Linked DNA regions of Homo sapiens: regions 2, 3, 4 and 5 are each linked to region 1. Evidence: fine-mapped expression QTL. A gene starts in region 1. Each other region holds a variant in brackets. All regions are shown on one strand. Distances are between the middles of the regions.

Region 1 (4,114 bases):
GCCATGTCCACTTGGGTCTCCTCATTTTTGTTTAGACCTGTTTTCCAGCCTCTGGACCAGGTATCTACCATTTGGTAGGGTGGACAGTGATGGCCAAGCTCAGAACACTCCAGGAGCACAAGGCATTAAGAACTGCATGATGTTATGGTTTCTTCCTAGCGCTCTCAGGACTCGGGGTAGATAAAACAGAGCATTTAACCTCCATAGGTAAATATTTAAAGATTCACATGAAGCAGTCAAGAAACAGCTCCAGACCAAGAAAGAAATAAGCACAACAGAAGATGTACACTGTAATGATTCAGACGGCCAGGGAGGTACTTAGACACCTATAGCCTTCTTATGCCAATCTACATAAGTATCACGGATCAAGCTTCTAACTACACAAAAGGCTGATTAAAGCATGCACTGGTCCCATGCAAATGTGAGTTTGTGTGTTTACGGGGGGTTGGTTGGAAGATTCCCTCCTTCTCAGGGGTTCTATATCAAAACTTCCTGAGTGAACTGGTAAGAAGCAAAGACGAATGGGAGTGTGTGTGTGTGTGTGTGTGTGTGTGTGTGTGTGTGTGTGCTCATAAGCAAGCACATACACATCCAAGAAAGAGGGTAATCTTACCAAATGGTAATATAACTGAACCTGTCTCTATACCAGTGTTCTGAGAGAGTTCTTATTCATTCAGCCTGAAACTCTGGGGAAGGCAATTTATCTTCCTGCTGCTGTAGGGAGCCTTGGTGAGAAGCACACAACCATATGAATACATGAGTGTGTGTGTGTGTGTGTGTGTACATACATTATCATTATACACAGGCATTAGTATGCACATACAAATATGAAGAAGGAGCCCCTTCGGTTTCATCAGGAGGACCAGAAGCAAAGTTTGAACTGCACAGATAAGGAGAAAGTCTGCAGTGACCACAAGCACGGGTGGAAGAGCAGAAGAAGGAAGCCAGGTTTTTGCTTATATTTGGCTTCTCCCCGACAGGGGAGAAACAGAAGACATGCTGTTTGCTTGCAAAGCCAGCCACCCATGGCAGTGCTTTGCTTTCTCGAAAACTTTTACCCTTCATTTAATCAACAGATGGACGTGCTCTGTTGTGGATTTTTTCTGAGTCTTGCACCTCTAAGAGCTGTGTTGGCTGGCACAAATGCAGCCTCAGATGGCAGAGGTGCATTGGCATTCCAAAAGAGCGGGAAGGAGCCCATGTACTTGCCCCTCCAAACTCAATTCCACAGGTGACTTTTGATGCCTTTGGCCAACTAGGCACTCACATTCCCTCTCCCGAATTTCCCTCTCCTTTCTGCACCACTACCAGCCCCAGGGCTCCCAGTGGCAAGGAGCCTAGAGGTGGCAAAGTTCTTTCCGGAGAGTCCACCTGCTTCTCTGCCCCTGCTAGGCTGCAGAAAGGAAACCATCAGCACCACGGGCGAAATTTCATTTTATACCCTGAATTCAGTGCTGTGTAGGATTCAGAATTCAACCTAATTTAGGGAACTCGATGACGTTCAATGAAACTCTTTACAAGCTTTTCCCAACCACTGCAAATTACCCCCCACAATACATTCTGTAATTGCAACCCCCTTTTCAACGGTGCAAACCACACACATTCGCTTTTGAATACACTTGTGCAAGTCAAACCCTATTCAAGCTGAAATATCCACCTAAACCAAGCTCTCCCTCCCTGCCGTCTCCTTCCCTGGCCTGGGTCTGAAGGAGAGGAGGTGCCCAGAAGTTCAGAGCGGCATAACCACAGAGATACTACCTAATTAACATACCAGAAGCATAAAGAACTCATTTGCATTGGAGAGTTTGAGCTGGATATTGACAAGTGAGAGGAGAAAGTCATTCCCCTCCCCTCCCATACCCCTTCTTTCCAAAGGAAAATAAACAGTACCATTTTGTTGCATTCGCAAAGGCGAAGAGGCAATGCCAGAGCATCTCAGCCCGGCACCGAGAGACGCATCCATCAGTCCGAGTTCCCGAAGCCTGCCCACGTTCCTGCCCACAGCCTCCCGCGCCCTGACAACCCAGCCGACTTTCTTCCAACTCCAGCAGCGCAGGGGTCCTACCTTGACTGAAGAGGAAGAAGCAGACGAAGAGCAGATCGAGCTGGAAGGGTTTCATTCCTTAGCGCAGCGAAGGAAAGCCGGCGGGGTAACTTGGCTGTGGTTAGTTTCTCTTCCTTGGCGGCTCTCGGTGCTCAGCCTCCGCCGGTCCTCTCGGGTTCGCGCCTACCATCTGTCCGTCCGTGGGTCCCTCCGGGTGGCTTCGGTCTCTTTGTGCCTCTGGGTATCTGCAGCCAGCCGACACAAACTGCCTGTTCTTAGCCGCCTCGGGAAGCCGGGATTGTCAGCAATGTCCCCACTCGGAGAAGATCCATTCTCTGGCTCTTGGCATCCCAGGCACACGGCTTCCTCAGGCGGGCTCCTCCCACAGTGAGCGAGCGAGCTAGTGACGAGTGACAGAAGGACTCCTTTCACTGAAGCTGAGGCGAGGGGAGAGGGAGGGGAGACAGGTCATAATTAAAGAGGAAACACTCGGAAAAAGGAGATCTATGCAAAACGGACAGTGGGGGAAAAGGCTGTGTTCTTTCTTTTCCCTAAATAGGGAAAAATTCAGCTTTTGTCACCATTATTGACCAAAAGGCATCTTGAGCTTGGAGTGGAGCTGTGACTTTTTGTCCACACGATGTCCTGTTTAACAGTGAAGTTAAGGATGACTATCCACATGCATGTGCACAAAAACATGCACGCCCTGCCTTTGCAAAGGAACTGGAAACTGGGCTGAAAGGGAACTAGGAAGGGGGGGTGCGCATCTTTCCCTCGGAAGGACTTGGCCAATGTGTGCAGCGGGAGGCTCGGAGTTGGAGAAGAGATAAGCATGCTTTGCATTTCTGAGAGTTTCCTGTGGGTGGGTGGGTGGTTGTGGTGGGGGGGGGGGGTAGGTAATAAAACCTGAACATTTGGATCTTAGTTTGCTTTGCACTGCTCCTGGAAGACAAAATGCAGGAACTAAAGGGAAGGCAAGTAGGCTTGTGACACACACCCATTTATTATCATTATCCTGGTTTGTGCATTTCCTAACGAGGACAGGGGAGCAGCCTGTCTTTGCATTCAGAGCCTCTCCTCTAATGAGCGCTCCATCACTCTGAGCCTGTCTTTTCTCCAAGAGGTGCTGTGAGTCCAATTGCAAAGGAGAGGCCAAGGTCATAGACAACTGCGTCCTAAGGATCTTCAAGCCTTTTACCTGTCATGAAATTCACACTCCACACTCAAATCAAACTCGGTTTCCTCCAGGATATCAACATGAATTTATCTGGGTCTATTTACTTAATAGACATTTAGGCATGCTTGGTATAAGCAGGCCATGGAGGGAAGCAAAATAATAGGCACAGACCATGCCTTCAGAAGCTCATAATCTAGTGTGCAAGCAGAGTACACACACAAGATGCAAACTCTAAGGACATAACAAAACAACACAGAAAAATATTCAACGTTATGCACTGTGAGAAGGAGAGGTAAAGAGAGAGGAGAGGAAAATGAAAGACGCTCCCCTGACATGTGCCATTTAGCATTCAATTCTAAAATCAGTCATTACTGTCTTCAGTCCCTGGACCTTGGGGAGGTCTTTTGGGAAACTCTTAGCCTTTCCTCTTTCAGTAGTAGCACATCTTTTGAGGACTCTGCTCACTACAAGGCACATTCCAACTCCAAGTTTCCATGCGGATGTTAACTTTAAAAAATTATCCCTTGGTATTTGTGAACAAGAAAGAAAGAAGCAGGGGCATATAGAAGTGTGCTAGTAGGAGCTGACATCTGGTAGTTGACACCAAAGATCTACAAATTAGTAGGTGTCTGCTTTGTTGACTTTTCTATTCTTAACTTAATAGTTTATTTAACTGCATCCCTTAGAGGCTGTTAAACACAGCAAAGGGAAATTTGTAAGCAAACTTTGGGAGGAGAAACAGAAATGTTGAGCAACAGAAACTAAAAGGACACAAAAGAGGCAGCCCATTAGCTAAATTAACAAACAAGTTACTGAAGCAGTGTCAGCTGAGCCTGAGTCCATTAGCCTGGTGTAACAGATCATGCAATAAATGGAAGAGGCAAATCAAAAAC
Region 2 (4,114 bases), 530 kb before region 1:
GTGACCAGCCTGGGCAACATAGGAAGATCCTGTCACTACCAAAAAAAAAAAAAAAAAGAAAAAAATTAAAAAAAAATTAGCCAGGCATGGTGGCTTGTGCCTGTAGTCCCAGCTACTTGGGAGGCTAAGGTGAGAGGATCACTTGATCCCGGAAGGTTGAGGCTGCAGTGAGCTGAGGTTGTGCCACTGTACTCCAGCCAGGGCCACAGAGTGAGACCCTGCCTCAGAAGAAGAAGAAAAAGAAAAAGAAAAAGAAGAAGGAGAAGGATAAAGAGAAAGTGAAAGAGAAGAGGAGGAGGAGGAGAAGAGGAGGATGAGGAGAAGACAGAGAGAAACAGAGAAGGCCAGGTGAAGGTGGAGGCAGAGATTGGAGGGATGCTGCCACAAGCCAAGGAATGCCAGGAGCTGCCAGGAGCTGGAAGAGGCAAGGAAGGATTTTCCCCTGGAGCCTTTGGAGGGGCACAGCCCTGCTGACACCTTGATTCCAGACTTGTTGGCTTCTACAGCTGTGAGATAATTGATTTCTGTTGTGTCATGCACCGAATTGTGGTGCTTTGTAATGGCAGCCCTAGGAAGCAAACCCATCTTAACTGCTGGTCTCCCACCTTCCCAGGTCATTGCTTTTCTCTACTGGGCCACAATGTCATTCCGAAGCTAGTTCCCCATTGTGGCTGCTACCTCCTTCCCTCTCCTGTTCCTCTTTGCAGCTACTTCCCCATCACTTTGGGGCGCACTAAGTCAGGTGCACCCCGGGGAGGGTGTGCTGAGTGTGTGTGGGGGTGCACTTCCAGGTTGGGATTGGGGTCTGGTCAGTATGCAAAGGCTTCTGCTACTAGGAGGTACTAGGAAGGAACCTCACTATGGGTGCAGTCCTGTTTCCCCCGACTGGAGCCAGGGAGTAGATGAACAGACCACTCCTCCCTCAAAACCTCCCATAAAGTGACAATGGCAATGTCTCTAATTCTTATGAGGGCCCCGGAAGACAGCAGCATTATCTTTGATTAGCCAAAGAGAAACCTGTGTTCCAAGTGAGCCGGGAACTTGCTGGGTGGAGCTAGGATTTGCACTTAAGAATGGGTGAACCCTGAGCCACAGCCTCTGCTGCAGCCCCGGGGGTGCTGGACGGTGGGTACCGTGCTCTTGGCAGGACAGATGGGAACAGTTAGGGCCACAGGGAGAAACCTGTAAGCTCCTAGAACCCCACATTCTGGGTCCTTAATTCAGTGAGGTTTTTCTCAACTTGGGGCAAACCTCGTGGCGTCAGGAGAACAGGGCCAGAGCCTCTATATAGAACAGCACATCTTGCTGGAGGCAAAGCCGGACTGTGACATTCTAGAGAGCCACGCGGTGCAGCTGCAGGCCTGGGACTCAGGGTGCCAGCCACGGCCCTGGGCAGAGGGGCTGGAGGAGAGTGACGTGGCCAGATGCAGCAAGCCGGGGGCAGGACCACTGCAGAGGAGTGAAGTTGAACCCCAAGCCAAAGCCCGGGCAGGGAGGGAGCAGCAGCTGGCACCGCTTTACCACCCTGCCTTGGGCTCTTCAGCAGACCTCATCGAGTCTATAAATAGCCAAGTGATAATAAGAACAATTTCCTGGATGAAACTAAGACTT[C/G]GGGTAGGGCGCGCAGGGGCGGGGAGGTGGTGAGGAGCAGGTTGGTATTCTTCTTCTCTTCTTTACATTTCCGTTGTGCTAACAAGGGACATTTACATAAGCTTGACTCTGCCAGGAGCCCTTCCAACGGATGGGCTCTGGGCGGTGGGTGCCAGTGGCAGGGGAGGGAGGGGACCCAGCTCTAATTAGGCCCTCTGACTGCTCCCCCTCCTCCCTGCACCCAGCGTGCTCCTCCGCCTCGGAATGATGATTAATGACATATTTACTGGGTCCAGGCGTGTGCTTTTCTGGGAAATAAAAATTCTGGTTCAAGTTGTTTGTTCCACCTAATTAGAGAAAAAGGGAGATGTGTTCATTAAACAAAAGGAGGGTGAGGGGAAGGCACGTGCCCCAGCACCAACACCCTCTCTGTCCCCGTGGAAGGTCCCAGCACCTCCTGGGCCCCTAGCTCGCGGGGGACCCCAGGCCCCGTGCAGCGGGTATCCCAGGGAGGAAGGCTGGGTCTGCCAGCTCTGCTGCAGGACGACTGAGGGGAGGAAGGTGGGACAGAGCTGGGGGGCCCAGGGGGAAGGCTGGAGGGAGCCCTGCACCTGCAGGACAGGGCGGGATGTGGAGGGGCACGGGGGATCTGCACCCCCGGGTTTCTCTTCCCCCATTCCTTTCTGATCTCGCCTCTCTTGTTTCTTTTGCTTCACTCCTTTTCAGAAATGAATCTCCCCTAATTGTCACTTTTCTCATATGCAAATGGAGCCTCTGGACTTTGCAGCCTTGAAGGTACTGTCCAGGAGAACATTCTATCATCTGCAGGTTCTAGTCGCAGCTCCACTCCGCCCCTCCCTTCCCTGCTTCCCTTCACTGAGCTTGGCTCTGGGGACACACCATGGGCATTGAACCTCCCACCTCCTGCTTCAGAAAGCTTCATGCCTTGCAGGTGAGCTCCAGAAGGAAGTGAGTTATTCATGGTGGGCCACTCACTGTGGGAGCCACCGCCTCCAAGGCCTCCCTCCAGTGTGGTGAGCACTAACGTGCTGCCAGCCCCCGGCTCGCCCAGGTTGCCCATGTGACTGCCATGGTGGCTCCCAAGAGTCCCCGAGGACCCAGCTCCTGTGTGTGCAGATATGGGCCAGGGGCAGGCATATAGATGGCGTGTGTGCAGCATGTGTCCGGGAACGAGCGTGCCAGGGCATACACCCCCGTGGGTATGTGCGCGTACCTGTTTTTGTCTTTGGGTGTTCATGGGCCTCTGTCCACTGACTGCCGTGACTCTGCGGGGCCCCAGGTTCTCTCTGGACGCTGCCTGCTCAGGTGCCGCCTCAGGGCTGTGCACCCACCCCCACTGCCCCTCCCTAAGGGCAGGGATTTGGCACTCACTTCTCTAGTTCCCCAGCACCGGCCTGGGAGGCCGGTCTTCCCAGGTATGGTTGTACACAGTGTACCCCACCCCATGGTTTTCCTGCTTGGGTGGCAGTGGCTGGCCACTCTGCTCTTTCCAAAGCCCCCAGGGCCTCCTCTGGGCAGTGGAGAGCCAGGCTGAGCTCTCGGAAATGGGTGGGCTGGAGGGCAGACAAGGGGTGGGGGCCCAAGCACTGGTGCTAAATATGGGGTGCCCGATGACAGGCAAACCGTCTGGAAAGGCCGAGAGTAGCCTGATTGCCTGGCAGCAAGGCCGCCTCGCTTCTCCCCGCTACTCACCTTCCCCACCTGCTGGGTCCCTTTTTTTTTTTTTTTAAAAAATCATGGCTCTGCTTCCCCTTTTGATAGCTGCTTGGGGCTCCCCATGGGCTGGTTGCCACCTGGCTTGAATAAGGGTGTGTGGGCCAGGTGGAGGATGCGCAGTGCTTTTTGCCCCAGTCCCTGCATCCAGCCTTGAGGCCAGAGGCCAGAGGGGTGCCCTTCACAGAGAAGGCCAGGATGAGCCTCGGCCACACCCAGTGGAGACTCTAGGCCCCTAAGCTGGGCAGATAGGTGCAGGGTGATGGGTGAGTGACCAGGGAGGGGGTGCCCAGTGGAGGGTGAGGGCCCTATGCATGTGGGCACTTATCCCTTTCCTGAGTGGGGTCTCCAGAGCTCCTCTTAGCAAAGGTGGTAAAAGGCGAGGCCAGTGGTCCTGGTGGTAGGGGTAGAGGGCAAGGGGCTCCAAGCAGACACAGACACGACTGTGCGTGCTAAGACCTTGCAACCCTCCTGCCTGGCAGGAAGCTGCACTTAGGAAGGGTTCTTTCTGGGCTCAGCCTGTCCTCTCGCCCCTCCTCTTCCGTAACCCATCCTTCCTCCCCTGCTGTGTGGACTTGGGGGCTTTCCAGAAGAAAGAATGTGGTCTCCACTCTGGCGCCAGGCCCTCAGAAGTATGAGGAACAGGGAAGGAACCCACTGTCCCCAGACAGCCCAGGGTTGAGTCTCCAGGAAGAAGCTTGGAGGGGCCTTTTCCTGCTCTGTGCCTCTGCAGCCGACACCCGCTGGGAGCCTGCAGTGGGCACTGCCCAAGGCCCCATCCGGCAGTGTG
Region 3 (4,114 bases), 560 kb before region 1:
AACACATACACACATTCGCCATACACACCATCATGTGTACTTACAGGTACACACACTATGACATACACACACACCATGTGCTCACACACACAAGTACACACACTACCAACAGATACACATGTTCACACATGCCATGACACATGTACACGGTAACACACCCACACCACACATGTACACAATCCACAAACACATGTACACACACATACTCTGGGGCATCCTCAGAGGGTCTTTCCATCCCAGAAAGGGGCCTGGGGAGCATCTTTCTGGGCAAAGTGGGTGCCCTGTTGGCCTGCGCACTGCGCCTCCACACAAATGCCCCCCGGGACTGTGGCTGCCTGGGTGGGTGTGAGTTAGGACAGCAGCCCCATGAACGCGTCTACCTGTGTGATGTTGTATGTCTGTGTGAGAAATGTGTCTACAGAGCTGTGTTTGCGATCACCTTCGTCTGCCTTAGTTTACAGGGCTGCTGGTTAACAGTTTTCAGAGCCGGCCACATACACTGTCTGCACCTCATCGTGTAAGCGCCTCGTATATCCTGGTTCGGGGCTGATGAGAGGGACTGAGTTTCTCAAGCTTGCTGCTATTGTCACGCTGGACTGACCCATTCCTGGCCGTGGGGCTCTCCCAGGCATTGCAGGATGTCAGCAGCACCCTGGCCTCTACACACCCGGTGCCAGGAGTATCCTCCAAGTGATGACAACCAAAATGTCTCCAGGCACTGCCAAATGTCCCCTGGGGCCAGTGAGAACCGCTGGCCTAGAATCAGATATTTCTGGAGAGAAGGTGTGAAAATGTCCAAGAGTGAATGGAATATTTGACAATGAGCATGTGTTACATTTATAATTAAAAACATCAAAAAGCAAAGTGAATGGGGAGGCGTAGGTATTAGTTTTATTCATGAGTTCTTGCAATTTTTTTGTGAATCTTTCAGACAGTGAATGAACTGAATGCTTGAGAAAGCGTGTAGCAGCAATAATACTCTAATAATATCTTAGTTAACAGGATGACAGTTTCAGTTGGTGCAGCCTGGGTGTCTCAGCCCCCGCATGCACGGGTTAGGGGTGACCTCAGCTGCTTCACATCTGGGCCAGCCCCACCCTCCCTGCACAACTGCCCTGCCCACTCCACCCCTGGACAGTCTTCTAGCAGGATTTTGCCATACACTGGGAATTACTACAAATAAGTTTTCCCCGAGTAGTGCTATAAAATGCTCACTTTTCTTTGTTTTCATGCCTGAGATCCCTCCAGTTTTAGATGGATTTGAGTACAAGACTCTGCCCCTGGATCACCTGAGGTCAGGAGTTTGAGACCAGCTTGGCCAACATGGTGAAACCTTATCTACTAAAAATACAAAAAAATTAGCTGGGTGTGGTGGCAGGTGCCTGTAATCCCAGTTACTTGGAAGGTTGAGGCAGGAGAATTGCTTGAACCCAGGAAGTGGAGGTTGCAGTGAGCCAAGATTGCACCATTGCACCCAGCCTGGGTGATAGAGAGAGACTCTGTCTCAAAAAAGAAAGAGGGAAAAAAAGACTCTGCCCTCACCTTAATTTTTTTGTTGTTGTTGTAGAGACAGGGTCTCACTATGTTGCCCAGGCTGGTCTCAAACTCCTGGGCTCAGTCGATCTTCCCACCTCAGCCTTCCAAAGTGCTGGGATTACAGACATGAGGCTCCTGCTCAGTAAGACCCTCCCTTTAAAAAAATGCAGATACTGGCTGGGCATGGTGGCTCACGCCTGTAATCCCAGCACTTTGGGAGGCTGGGGTAGGAGGATCGATTGAGCCCAGGAGTTTGAGACCAGCCTGACCAACATGGTGAGACCCCATCTCTACTGAAAATACAAAAATTAGCGAGGTGTGGTGGCAGATGCCTGTAATCCCAGCTACTCAAGAGGCGCTGAGGCATGAGAATTGCTTGAACTGGGAGGTGGAGGTTGCAGTGAGCCGAGATTGTGTCACTGCACTCCAGCCTGGGTGATAGAGCGAGACTCCATCTCAAAAAACAAACACAAACAAACAAACCCAAAAAACACACAAACAAAAAAACCAAGCAGATAGCTGGTAGGAGGCGCTGAGGGTGGACTCCTCAGTTGCCTTAGCTGCATTGCAGGGATAAGTTCTTTGAGGAAGGGAGAGAGAATGGAATGGTCACTTTAGAGGGGACGATTGATAGGCAACAGGGCAGGCTACCATGGACAGTAAAGGCCACAGAGACCTGGCAAGGAGGGCTCCAGGAGGCACAGAAAGGGGTTGCCAACTATTACCTGCGCTCTAAGATTTTGCTAAAGACTGGCCTGGAGCCCAGGAAGAGAAGAAGTCACTTGTCTTTTCTCTCCACTACCCTCGTGTGCCCCTCTGCCCTTAGGATGCGGAATTTGGTCAGAGCCGTTCATGTCAGAGCTCAGCAGAATGGCAGCTGAACCCTGGGAGAGCACTGCCT[G/A]TTCTGAGAAAGGCCTGCAATTGTGTCTTCACGATGCTTTTCCAAGACAGCCAAGGCAGGTATAATTTTCCTCAGCAAGAAAGAGGAACCTCGGAGGTGTGCACCGCCTGGCTGGCCACCCAGGTATTGGCAAAAGTGACTGTTGGGCTGCTGGCCCGGCCCCCGCCCGCCGTCCCTGGAGCACTCACGATGCGGTCCGGCGGCGGCGTGCTCCGGATGAAGCACTTGATCTGGCCCTTCTCGCCGTGGAGGGCGTGCTGGGTCTGGGTGCTGGAGATGATGGGGGGTCCTGTTGAGAAACAGCGTCCCATTAGGCACCCGGGAAGGGCACGTCCCTGCTGGCGCCCTCTTGGGTGGGTTCAGAAGTGTATTCATTAATCCAAGCATTCAGCAAACATTTGCCGAAGGCCTGTATGTGCAAGGTAAAGTGCAAGGTAGAGGACTCAGAGATAAATTAGGCATTCAGTCATAAACCTCTCAAGGGATCATGAGCGAATGCTTCTAAGTCAGAACCCCCAGAAGATACAAATAACTGTAATAAAAGGTGGTGAGTGTTAGTACCACAGGAGCGGTGCAGATAAAGTGCTAACCGACTTCAGAGGAGAGAGAATAATTCTATCTGGCGGACGGGGAAAGCTTTAGGGAGGAGGTGGTAAGCCTGCAGAGGGGGTGGGGAGGTGTCTAGATGAAGGAAGACTCCCCCGCCTCAGCCAGCGGCACCCCTGCGAGCCATTCCTCAGATATCCAGTAGAGGGCGCCCTTGCCTAACAAATGGGAGCTGCTCGGCCAGACGGGCCAACGGGAAGAAATGGTTGCTGTCCCTCTCCTTAGGGCGGGAATCACCCCGGACAGGGGGAATGCATGCGCTGGCCGTGTTCACAGCCCTCCTCCCACCTGTGTCTCAGGAGGTCCTGCAGTTCATCATCTTGTCTGCCTCCACGTCCATACCCAGACTGCCCAAGTGAGGCCATGGCTCCCAAACTGACCCCAATATTATCATATCACAGAGTGTGGCACATGTTTATGGGTGTCAGGTTCTGAGAGCGCCTGTCTCATTCACCACATTGCACAGCCAAGAGAGTTCACCTGGTGGAGGGGAGCCTGTTCCCCAGCGCCTCCTGTCCAGTTCCGCCTGTTACCTAACCCAAGTCTTTCCCCTGTGACGCCTGCCTGGCCGTGAAAGACAAAAGAAGGAGCAGCTAGCTTAGCCTGGGCTCTGCTGGCTTCCTGGCTGGGCTGGGTGGTTGAAGGATGGGAGTAGGGACGGAAACTGTCATGCTCCCTTTCCAATCCCTGGGGTCACAGTTGGGACTTAGATGGCAGATACCAGAGGAAAGACAGCCGGGAGCAACGCATCTGGAGAACACACAGAATTATGCAGGAACAAAACAAAAATTGCTGCAAACATAATTGCTGTTTATTAGCCACCTTAATTAAAGCAGATTTGCATTTCTATGAGTAGCTCTCAGCCAAGGGAGAAAAGGTACTGTAGACACTCCAGTGACTTCTGTTGAGTTTGAGAAGGCAAAAGGGCTCGGGGCAGCGTGAGGTGGGCGTGGGGGACCCTCCATGGCTTTAAGAATGGGCTGAGCGCTGCCCTCCTTCCTAAAAATCCTTCAGCTCCAACAGGTCTAGGACCCAAAGAGATGAGGAGATTGATGTTTTAGGAACCGGATG
Region 4 (4,114 bases), 690 kb before region 1:
TCCATCATGGCCAGGCTGGTCTTGAACTCCTGACCTCGTGATCCACCCGTCTTGGCCTCCCAAAGTGCTGGGATTACAGGTGTGAGCCACCGTGCCCAGCCAGAATAATAGATTAATCTACTAATTGAATGATAAAAATTGTCAACAACACTTAGGAAATCCTTACTATTGTATCTACATGTATTAACACAGTTAATCCTCAAAACAGCCCTCTTGTAAGGAGGACTTTACGAATGAGGAAACCGGTTTTTGAAAGGTTAAATAACTTGTCCAAAATCACACAGCCAGTAGGTGGCGGGAAAGCTAAGGTTTTTCAGTAGACTGGGGTCTTGCTCACCATACTCATTCTGTGGGCCGGCCAGTGTGTCTGGTGCTGCAAAAATCAGTCACTTCCCTGAAGGAACCTACTTTCTGGTGGGAGAGACAACTAGTGAGATCAAGGGGGATGGGAGAGAAGGGCAAGAACTCGTGGGTTAAAAGGCAGAGATTTGTTTTTCATTGCAAGCATTTCTTAATTTATTAAAAAGAATATTCCATGCCAAAAGCCAGGTGTGACATGTGCATTTTTTCTCAAGATGGTTAGATTTTGTAGGCAGCTTTGTTGGAAACATGAGTGAGACTGGTTGACCTTAAAGATTCCTTCCAACCAGCAAATTCTGGAATTTGTTTTACAGCACATGGTGACTTTGTCATATCCTTCTGTCTTCTTGTTTGCCCTCCAGCATTTAAGAGCGGTCTGGCTTTGCAGATATCTTGCCCCACAGTCTTTTGATAGATATTCTTTTCTGCCCTCCATGAAAGGGTGCTATTGTTGTCCTTTGGAAATATGTGAACACTTCATGGTGAGACAAGCAAACCTTTCATGACTTAATGCAAAACAGCCTTGTCTTCCATTGAGCAAAAGCCAGATTAATTGGTGCAAGTTGATGGAAATGGACAGCTGTATTTCCTTTCTCAGGCAGTGACGTTTAAGCAAATGTATTCCTCAGCACAGGGCGGCAGAAGAATGACAGAAGGCACCGTGGCCAAACACAACTTGGGGTGGCCCCCTGCATTGCAGGCTCTAGGGGCTATTATTTTACTGCCACACCCTTTCCCTCACCTTCCGAAATCCCTCTACCCACCCTCCCCACCCTTGGCCAAAATTCAGAAGGTTCTGCCCGACAGATGAACCCTGTGGAATTCACAGGCTGTCCTTTTTATTTTCCCAGTCCTTCTGTGGCATTGCACACAAGTGGAGGTAGTCCCTGCTCGCCCTTTCTGTTTCTATTGTTTTTCCCAAGATAAGCACTGAAAGAGGCAGTGGGTTATTGGCCCACCACAAGTCCTTGTTCCCACTCAGAACCCCAGGTGTCTCCAGGGCCACCCCCACCCACCTGGGAGCCTCAGATGTTAGTTCATCTTTTCTTTTCCTGCCCCTTTTTTTTTTTTTTTTTGAGATGGAGTTTTGCTCTTGTCACCCAGACTGGAGTGCAATGGCACGTTCTTGGCTCACTGCAACCTCCGCCTCCCAGGTTCAAGTGGTTTTCCTGCCTCAGCCTCCCGAGTAGCTGGGATTTACAGGCACACACCACCACGCCCAGCTAATTTTTGTATTTTTAATAGAGATGGGGTTTCACCATGTTGGCCAGGCTGGTCTCGAACTCCTGATCTCAGGTGATCCAAAGTGCTGGGATTACAGTTACAGGCATGAGCCGCTGCCCCTGGCCTTCCTGCCTTCTTGGTATATAAGTCATCCCTCAGTATCCACTGGGGATTGGTTCCAGGACTCTCCTTGGATACTAAAATCTGTGGATGCTCAAGTCCCTGATATAAAATGGTGTAGTATTTGCATGTACCCTAAGCACATCTCCTGCCTGCTACAATGTAAATGCTATGTAAATAGTTATTATACCATGTTTTTTAGGTAATAATGACAAGAAAAGTCTGTACGTATTCAATACAGACGCAATGTCCTTCTTTTTTTAAGTATTTTTATTCTTCATTTGGTTGAATCCACAGATATGGAACCCACAATACGGAGGGCCGACTGTACATGCGGTGCCTTTCGCTCCTGCTTTTCCTACCAAAACTAGGGATGGGGATTTGGAAGTCGCAGCGGTTTGCTTCAGGGCCCGGTTGCTCCCTTGTTTAGCTGCATAGCTTTTCCCTGGGTGATATTTGAGGTCAGGATTGTCAAACTTTTTCTGTCAAAAACCAAAGAGTCAATATTTTAGGCCTTGTGAGGCACAAATGGTCTCTGTCTCCTCTTCTTCTTTTCCTCCCATCTTCCT[T/C]CCCAACCCCTTCTTCTTCTGCCTTTTCTGCCTTCTCCTTCCTTCTTCTTTTTCTCAACCCCTGTGAAAATGAAAATATCACTCTTGGTTTGCTGATTGTACAAATAGAGGTCCAGCTGGCCATAGTTTGTTAACCTCTGTTCCAGATTTTTACCACTCAAAGTGTGGTTTGTGAACCAGCAGTATTCGCACCACCTGGGAGTCTGGTAAAACAGAATCTCCTCCCCATTTCAGACTACAGAATCACTGGAGTCTGCATTTTAGCACAACTCCCTGGTGAGCCATATGCACGTAAAACTTTGAGAGGCACTGGTCTTTAAAAAAACACCATCTGTATGCCGGCGACGCCCACCTTTATTTCTCCATCCTTGACCTCTCCAAGAACTCCGGGCTCATATTGAAATAAAGCCCTCCTTGACATCTCCATTTGGAGGTCTCATAGGTGCAATTCAAGAATCCGATGCGCTAATGTACTTAAAAGCACTGAGCACAATACTAAGTAGTAGCTGCTGTTATTAGTCTCATGTGCCAGGCCCTATGCCGCGTACCGTAGCTTCAGAGATGAGTAAGATACCATCCTTGCCCTCACAGTCTTGTTTGGGGTCAGGGGTGGGGACATAGTGGTGAAAAGAGGAGAGTTTGGTCACTGCCTGGATATAAGGGGTGAGGTCCTCGAAGGTTGGAGCCATGTCGCCCATATTAGGTGCTTTCAATAAGTGAAGAATGAACCCACAAACTGACCTATGTGTAGATTTGTTTTCCTGTGGGCTGGGCATTCCACAGCCACAAGGTGGCAGCATTGCCAAAATAGTCCTGTGGCCCACTCCAGCTGTCCCCTCTGTGGGAAGGCCAGCTAAGTCAGAGCCTGGGACCTCCCTCTCCAGTCCCAGCCTTGGAGTCAACTCAATGCTGCCCACCCCGAGGGCCCTGAATGTGCAGTTCCTGCAGCCTCAGCCCTCTGTCCCCCTGCATGGTTGTGCCTTTGAGTTTTTCTGCTGTCTCTGGCTGCTTCTTTAGACCTCCTTCCTAGAATACTGTTTGCCTAGGGGAGCCCCCACCCCTCATTTCTGAGCTGGCCACAGTAGAAATCATGGGCTCAGCTGATTTTTTTCTGGTATTCCTCTGGTCACTGGCAACTTTCTTTTCCTCTTCAAGTCTGGAGGTTTTGCAGTCTCCTCATTCGTTTATCCCCTCCACGTTCTCAGCTGACTGCAAGAGGCTGCTCGTGTGAGCCACTCATCCTTCCAGCTGCAATGTCCATCCCAACGACATAATGGAGAGAGCATGGGCTTTAGGAGTTAGTCATGCTGGGGCACTCATGCTTTCTCATGGCATGCACTGGGGCAGCAACATGCTGTTTCTGAGTTTTAGCACAGTGCCAGTGCTGAGAACAAGCCTCACGTCAGGCAGACCTGGGTGCGAATCCTGGCTTTGCCATTTGCTAACCATGAGGACCTGGGACATTTCTTTATTCATTTAACAAATGTGAAGTGTCTGCTATGTGCCAGCTACTCTAGTAGAAGCAAGGTCTGTGTTGGTGAAGATAACCGATGTCTCCCTGTCTTTGCAGTTCTAGTGGGGAAGGCAGACAGCAAACAAGGAAGCAGATGTCTGAGTGGCCATGAGCAGGAGAGAGCCTACTCAGACCAGGGCTCTAGGAGGGCTCTCTGCAGTGGAGCTGACACCCAGGCTGAGGCCTGAAAGATGGGAAGAAGCCAGCTGTGCAAAGAGGGGAGAACACTCTGGGCTGAGGAATAGCACGTGTTCTGGGGATGGAAAGAAGAACAGAAATGAGGCTGTTATGTCAGGAGTGATGGGGTGGGATGGTGGCAGGGGTGTGT
Region 5 (4,100 bases), 640 kb before region 1:
GTCAAGAGATCGAGACCATCCTGGCCAGCATGGTGAAACCTCGTCTCTACTAAAAATACAAAAATTAGCTGGGCATGGTGGCACGCGCCTGTAGTCCCAGCTACTCGGGAGGCTGAGGCAGGAGAATCACTTGAACCCGGGAGGCAGAGGTTGCAGTGAGCCAAGATCACGCCAGTGCACTCCAGCCTGGCGACAGAGCGAGACTCTGTCTCAAAATAATAAATAAATAAATAAATAAATAAATAAATAAATAGTTGTTGAATGCATGTCTGACTGATTAAGCCAAAGGCACCATATTCAAACAAAATCAGACACTGGTGCAATGCCAAACAGCTTCTGCCCGTGCAAGGAATGATTTAGCATGGAGCACAGTCACCTGCAGAGGAACAACTTGGAGGCAGACTCTCCTTACTCAGCTCACTTGGAGCAGAGCTTCCTGAGTTGGGGGTTCTTGACAGATAAGCCCTCCAGCTTCAGCAGAAGCAGGCTTGGAGCTGCCACTTCTCTGAACCCCCTTGCACTTACTGTCAGTCACTCACACCTTGCACTTATTCACATCCTATCCTGCCTCGTTCTTGAATGGAGTCCATGGTGAGCCTTCTCTGTGCCGCTGGATGGTAAGCTTCCTGGGGACAGGGAATGGGTCTGATAGTTTCCTTGGAGCCCCTGGCGCTCCCGGCACTGGGCTGTTGATACGTGGGGCTCCGGAAACACTGTGCTGACCTGTGAAAGGGACTGGCCTAAGGGGCTGTGGATTGTCCTGTAGGGTGACTTCTGAACTGTTCTTCAGCCTGGGCAGTTCCCAGGTTTATTTGGGGGGATGCCTGGGTCCAAAGAACCAGGGTCAGGGGCCCAGGGGTTTCTTCCTGGAGACAGGATGCCTGGCGCCTTCAATAACGGAAAGGAAACTGAGAAACTTTCTGAGGCCAAGATAAAGAGTATGCAAGTGAGGGGTGCAGAGAGAGCAGTTTAGGGGCAGCAGGCCCCAACCGAAGCAGAGGAAGGGCCCACGTCTGGGCCCAGGGGACTGACTGGCTGCCTTGCGTGCATGGGGCACGGGAAGCATAGGCTCCCGGAACAGGACCCTGCCCCAGTTTCCCCAGTGAGGGAAGGACACCGTTCCCCGTGGGATAGAGCACTGCACCCTTTCTTGATTCTCATTGTTCCCGGGAGCGAGCGCCTTGGCTGCGCTGGGCATACCCACCCTGGCGCCATTCACAGGCAGTGCCTGCCCTGGCCCTGTGCTCACCCCATCAGGCCTCCTCTTCCGCCTCTCTGGCACCCACGGCGCCCCTGCTTGCCTCTGTCCGGGTCTCGGAGGCGCGAACACCATCCCAAGCCTGCGACCGCGCGGCATCACCCCCGCCCTTCCCCCTCCTCCACCCCGCCCTTTCTACCCCTCCCGGGAGCTCCTGGGAGTCGGGCCGCCGTGTGCGCAAGCGTGTCCAGCCCCTTCCCCGCCCCCAACCCGGGCCCGGGTCCCCGCCTCCCCTGCAGGCGGACTCGCCCGCTCCCAGGCCGGACCCGCGCCCGGGACAGGGACCCGGCCGAGTCGAGCCGTCGCGCCAGCGCTGCGCCGCCGGTCGGTGCGCCTAGCGGATCGGAGCTGCGCGCGGAACCGTGCTGCCCCGCCCCGCTCCACCCGTGAGGGTGAGTACGCGGCGGCGGTGCGCGGGGGCCCGCGGGGCGGGGCGGGGCGGGGAGCCGCGGGGTCCTCGGCCGCCTGACCCCAGCCGGCGCCGCGCCTCCCGGAGGGGGTCGGGCCCTGCACGTGGGCGCAGCGCGGGTCGGGGTGGGGCTGCCACAGCCCTGCGGAGCTGCTTTCCGGGGTCCCTTTCCCTGGACCAGATTTTCGCGGGAAGCCGGATCCTCTCCGTTCCCTTGGAGTGAGCAAGCGGGACAGTTCTGCGGAAAGTTTCCGCCCCCAATCCCCCAGCCCTGCGCCCGGACTGAAGCGGCGGCCCCCACCTCCAGCATCCTCGAGCGATGGTTTCTCCCACAACTACCCCGGTCAGGTCCAGCACTTGGGAGCTGACTGTGCTGGAGGTGACAGGCTTTGCGGGGTCCGCCTGTGTGCAGGAGTCGCAAGGTCGCTGAGCAGGACCCAAAGGTGGAGTTGTCAGTGGGAGGCCGGCTGTGCCCAGGGTCCTAGGGCCACGTTATGGGGGTCGTCAGGCCTAGGCCACTGTGCCTCAGGGCTGCATGGGTGGTGAGCAGTGGGAGGGATGCGATGGGGGGAGTGGGCTCAGCTGTCTGCTGTGGGTGTTTCCTCGGGGACCTGGCTGGCAGGGACCTCCCGGCCAGCCCAGAACTGCCAACATGTCTGCCAGCACTGCCCCTCCATTCCCAGTCCTGGGGGGAGGCTCTGTCTGGGCAGCTTGAGGCCTGACCTACTGTGGCTGCTTCCTCTGCTCCCCAGCCTGGGTCCTGAGGGCCTGGCTTAAGGGAACTGCTGCCAGAAGGCTGGGAGTGTAGGCAGTGTTCGGGTGCCCAGCTGTGCCCTGTCTGACCTCATGGCCACCCACAAGCTGGCACCCCCCACAGGCCTCTTGGGGAAGCCTGTACTTTCCACCGC[C/A]GGAGGCGGGTACCGCGTGGAAGCCAGGCTCAGGCGGACTCATTCTTTTTGAACTTTGGGAACAGGCCTGGTACAGGCTGAGTTCTCACAAGAGACACACACCCGTGTCACTGTCTCCTGAGCTGTGCCGGACCCGTCCTACAGACTCCACCTCCTCTAGGTCCTGGCCCTGGCATCTGCCAGGGGGATTTTAAATGAGTTGATATATGCTAAGTGCTTTGAAAGGCGCCTGCACGGAGGGAGAGCTGTATAAATATTCACTATTGGTAATATTTCTCCCATGCTGTTACTCTCCAAAGCTGCCCGATAATTCTAGAGTGGGTTCCGGGGACGTGCCCGCTGTTTGGGGCCTAGAAATGAACTCGGGAGGTTGTTTTGCTTGCTGAGAGCTGGTCTGGGAATGCCCCTTGACCGTTCCCTGCCCTGCTCCTGGCCCACTCCCAGACTGCTCCTGTGCCTGGCCCCATTGCGCTGGGTGGGTGATCCTAAGCTGCCCCATGGGCCCTGGGCTCTGTCAAGACATGGGGAGCTTGCCAGGAGTTGGGGCCAGATCCCCCAGACTCCAAGATGGTAACCGAGGTTGTGAGGGTGCACATGGAAGGAAGAGTTAGAAGAGTGAATTGGAAATTGCCAGCTTGGACTTTGGGCAGAGTGGGTGTCTTTAGCTTGGGGATGGGTTGTTGTTCAGAGACAACAGGGCCGCCTTCTCTGTGAGCTGGCGGCCCAGGCTGAGGTGCCTCTGGGCTGCCTTCCCTACGGGAAGCAGTGACTGGCCCTCTGCTTCTCAGGAAGAGAGTGCCGTGCCCCCGCCAGCCTCCCAACCTCGTTAGACTCCTAGAATCCGGTTTTCTGGATAGAACTAAGAATCTGCTCCTTTCTGGACTTTTAATCCTGGAAAGGGCTCCCTTCCCCAGCAGGAGCAGAGAGACCAAACCCCCTTTCTGTGCTCCATCTTGAGCTGTCATTCTGTCCTAACTCCCCACTGGCCACCATCTGCCCTTGCTTTGGGGGCTACCCCAGGTCTGACTTGGGCACGTTCTCTGGGTCTCTCCTCAGAGAGGCTGCTCCTGGGGTTGTCCCAATGGAATTGGGAATTCTTCTCAGAATGGCTCAAAGGTTTGCACCATCTGTTGGAGGGAAGGGATCCCTCTATCTTGGACTAATACAAATGTTTCCGTGCCTGCCAAGTTCCAGACCCTGGGCCGATAGGGAAAGGAGCTGGCTGGGGGGCCTGCAGGGGATGGAGAGGGAGCTTGGGCCCCAAGTGGGGTCTGAAGTCCAAGCCTACAGATTGCCATCAAGGCAGCCGCTAGAGCCTAGCCCAGCTCCTGGCCCCTCGGAGATGGACCTTAGATGCTGGAGAGCGGGGCAGTCCAGCAGTGCAGGGTGGGACACCCCGAGCAAACAGCCCCTGCTTCCTGCCCCCTCAGTTCAGTCGCACTGGGCCGGCTGGACGTTTCCCTGCAACAGGCCCCTGCTGGTGGTTTAGCTCCCGCTCCGTGTTTCCCTCACGCTGGGATCCTCC

What was found. PIP is the estimated chance that this variant, and not a neighbour inherited with it, causes the effect.
Region 2: its variant is fine-mapped to the expression of KIRREL3 in whole blood (TOPMed, PIP above 0.99).
Region 3: its variant is fine-mapped to the expression of KIRREL3 in whole blood (TOPMed, PIP above 0.99).
Region 4: its variant is fine-mapped to the expression of KIRREL3 in whole blood (TOPMed, PIP 0.98).
Region 5: its variant is fine-mapped to the expression of KIRREL3 in whole blood (TOPMed, PIP above 0.99). The same link has a PIP of 0.9 or more in blood mononuclear cells.

Annotation. Positions count from the first base shown.
Region 1 is chr11:126,998,390-127,002,503 of GRCh38, forward strand. KIRREL3 (kirre like nephrin family adhesion molecule 3) reads right to left here and starts at 2,381. Exons shown (of 17, transcript NM_032531.4): 1 at 2,066-2,381. The coding sequence starts at 2,120.
Region 2 is chr11:126,464,306-126,468,419 of GRCh38, forward strand. All of the region lies in intron 5 of KIRREL3 (kirre like nephrin family adhesion molecule 3), which reads right to left. Among named protein-coding and RNA genes, the nearest start is that of KIRREL3-AS1, 77 kb to the right of the region's middle. RefSeq lists enhancers at 1,382-1,441, 1,989-2,538, 2,539-3,086. The variant C/G (reference allele first, on the strand shown) is at 1,612.
Region 3 is chr11:126,437,824-126,441,937 of GRCh38, forward strand. KIRREL3 (kirre like nephrin family adhesion molecule 3) reads right to left here. Exons shown (of 17, transcript NM_032531.4): 11 at 2,626-2,726. Among named protein-coding and RNA genes, the nearest start is that of ST3GAL4, 84 kb to the left of the region's middle. The variant G/A (reference allele first, on the strand shown) is at 2,438.
Region 4 is chr11:126,307,606-126,311,719 of GRCh38, forward strand. All of the region lies in intron 2 of DCPS (decapping enzyme, scavenger), which reads left to right. Among named protein-coding and RNA genes, the nearest start is that of TIRAP-AS1, 5.3 kb to the left of the region's middle. RefSeq lists an enhancer at 3,813-3,882. The variant T/C (reference allele first, on the strand shown) is at 2,274.
Region 5 is chr11:126,354,193-126,358,292 of GRCh38, forward strand. ST3GAL4 (ST3 beta-galactoside alpha-2,3-sialyltransferase 4) reads left to right here and starts at 1,494. Exons shown (of 11, transcript NM_001254757.2): 1 at 1,494-1,650. It overlaps GSEC (G-quadruplex forming sequence containing lncRNA), which reads right to left and starts at 1,395. Exons shown (of 2, transcript NR_033839.1): 1 at 1,250-1,395. RefSeq lists enhancers at 386-1,129, 1,130-1,871, 1,872-2,615, 2,303-2,452 and a silencer at 1,333-1,712. The variant C/A (reference allele first, on the strand shown) is at 2,576.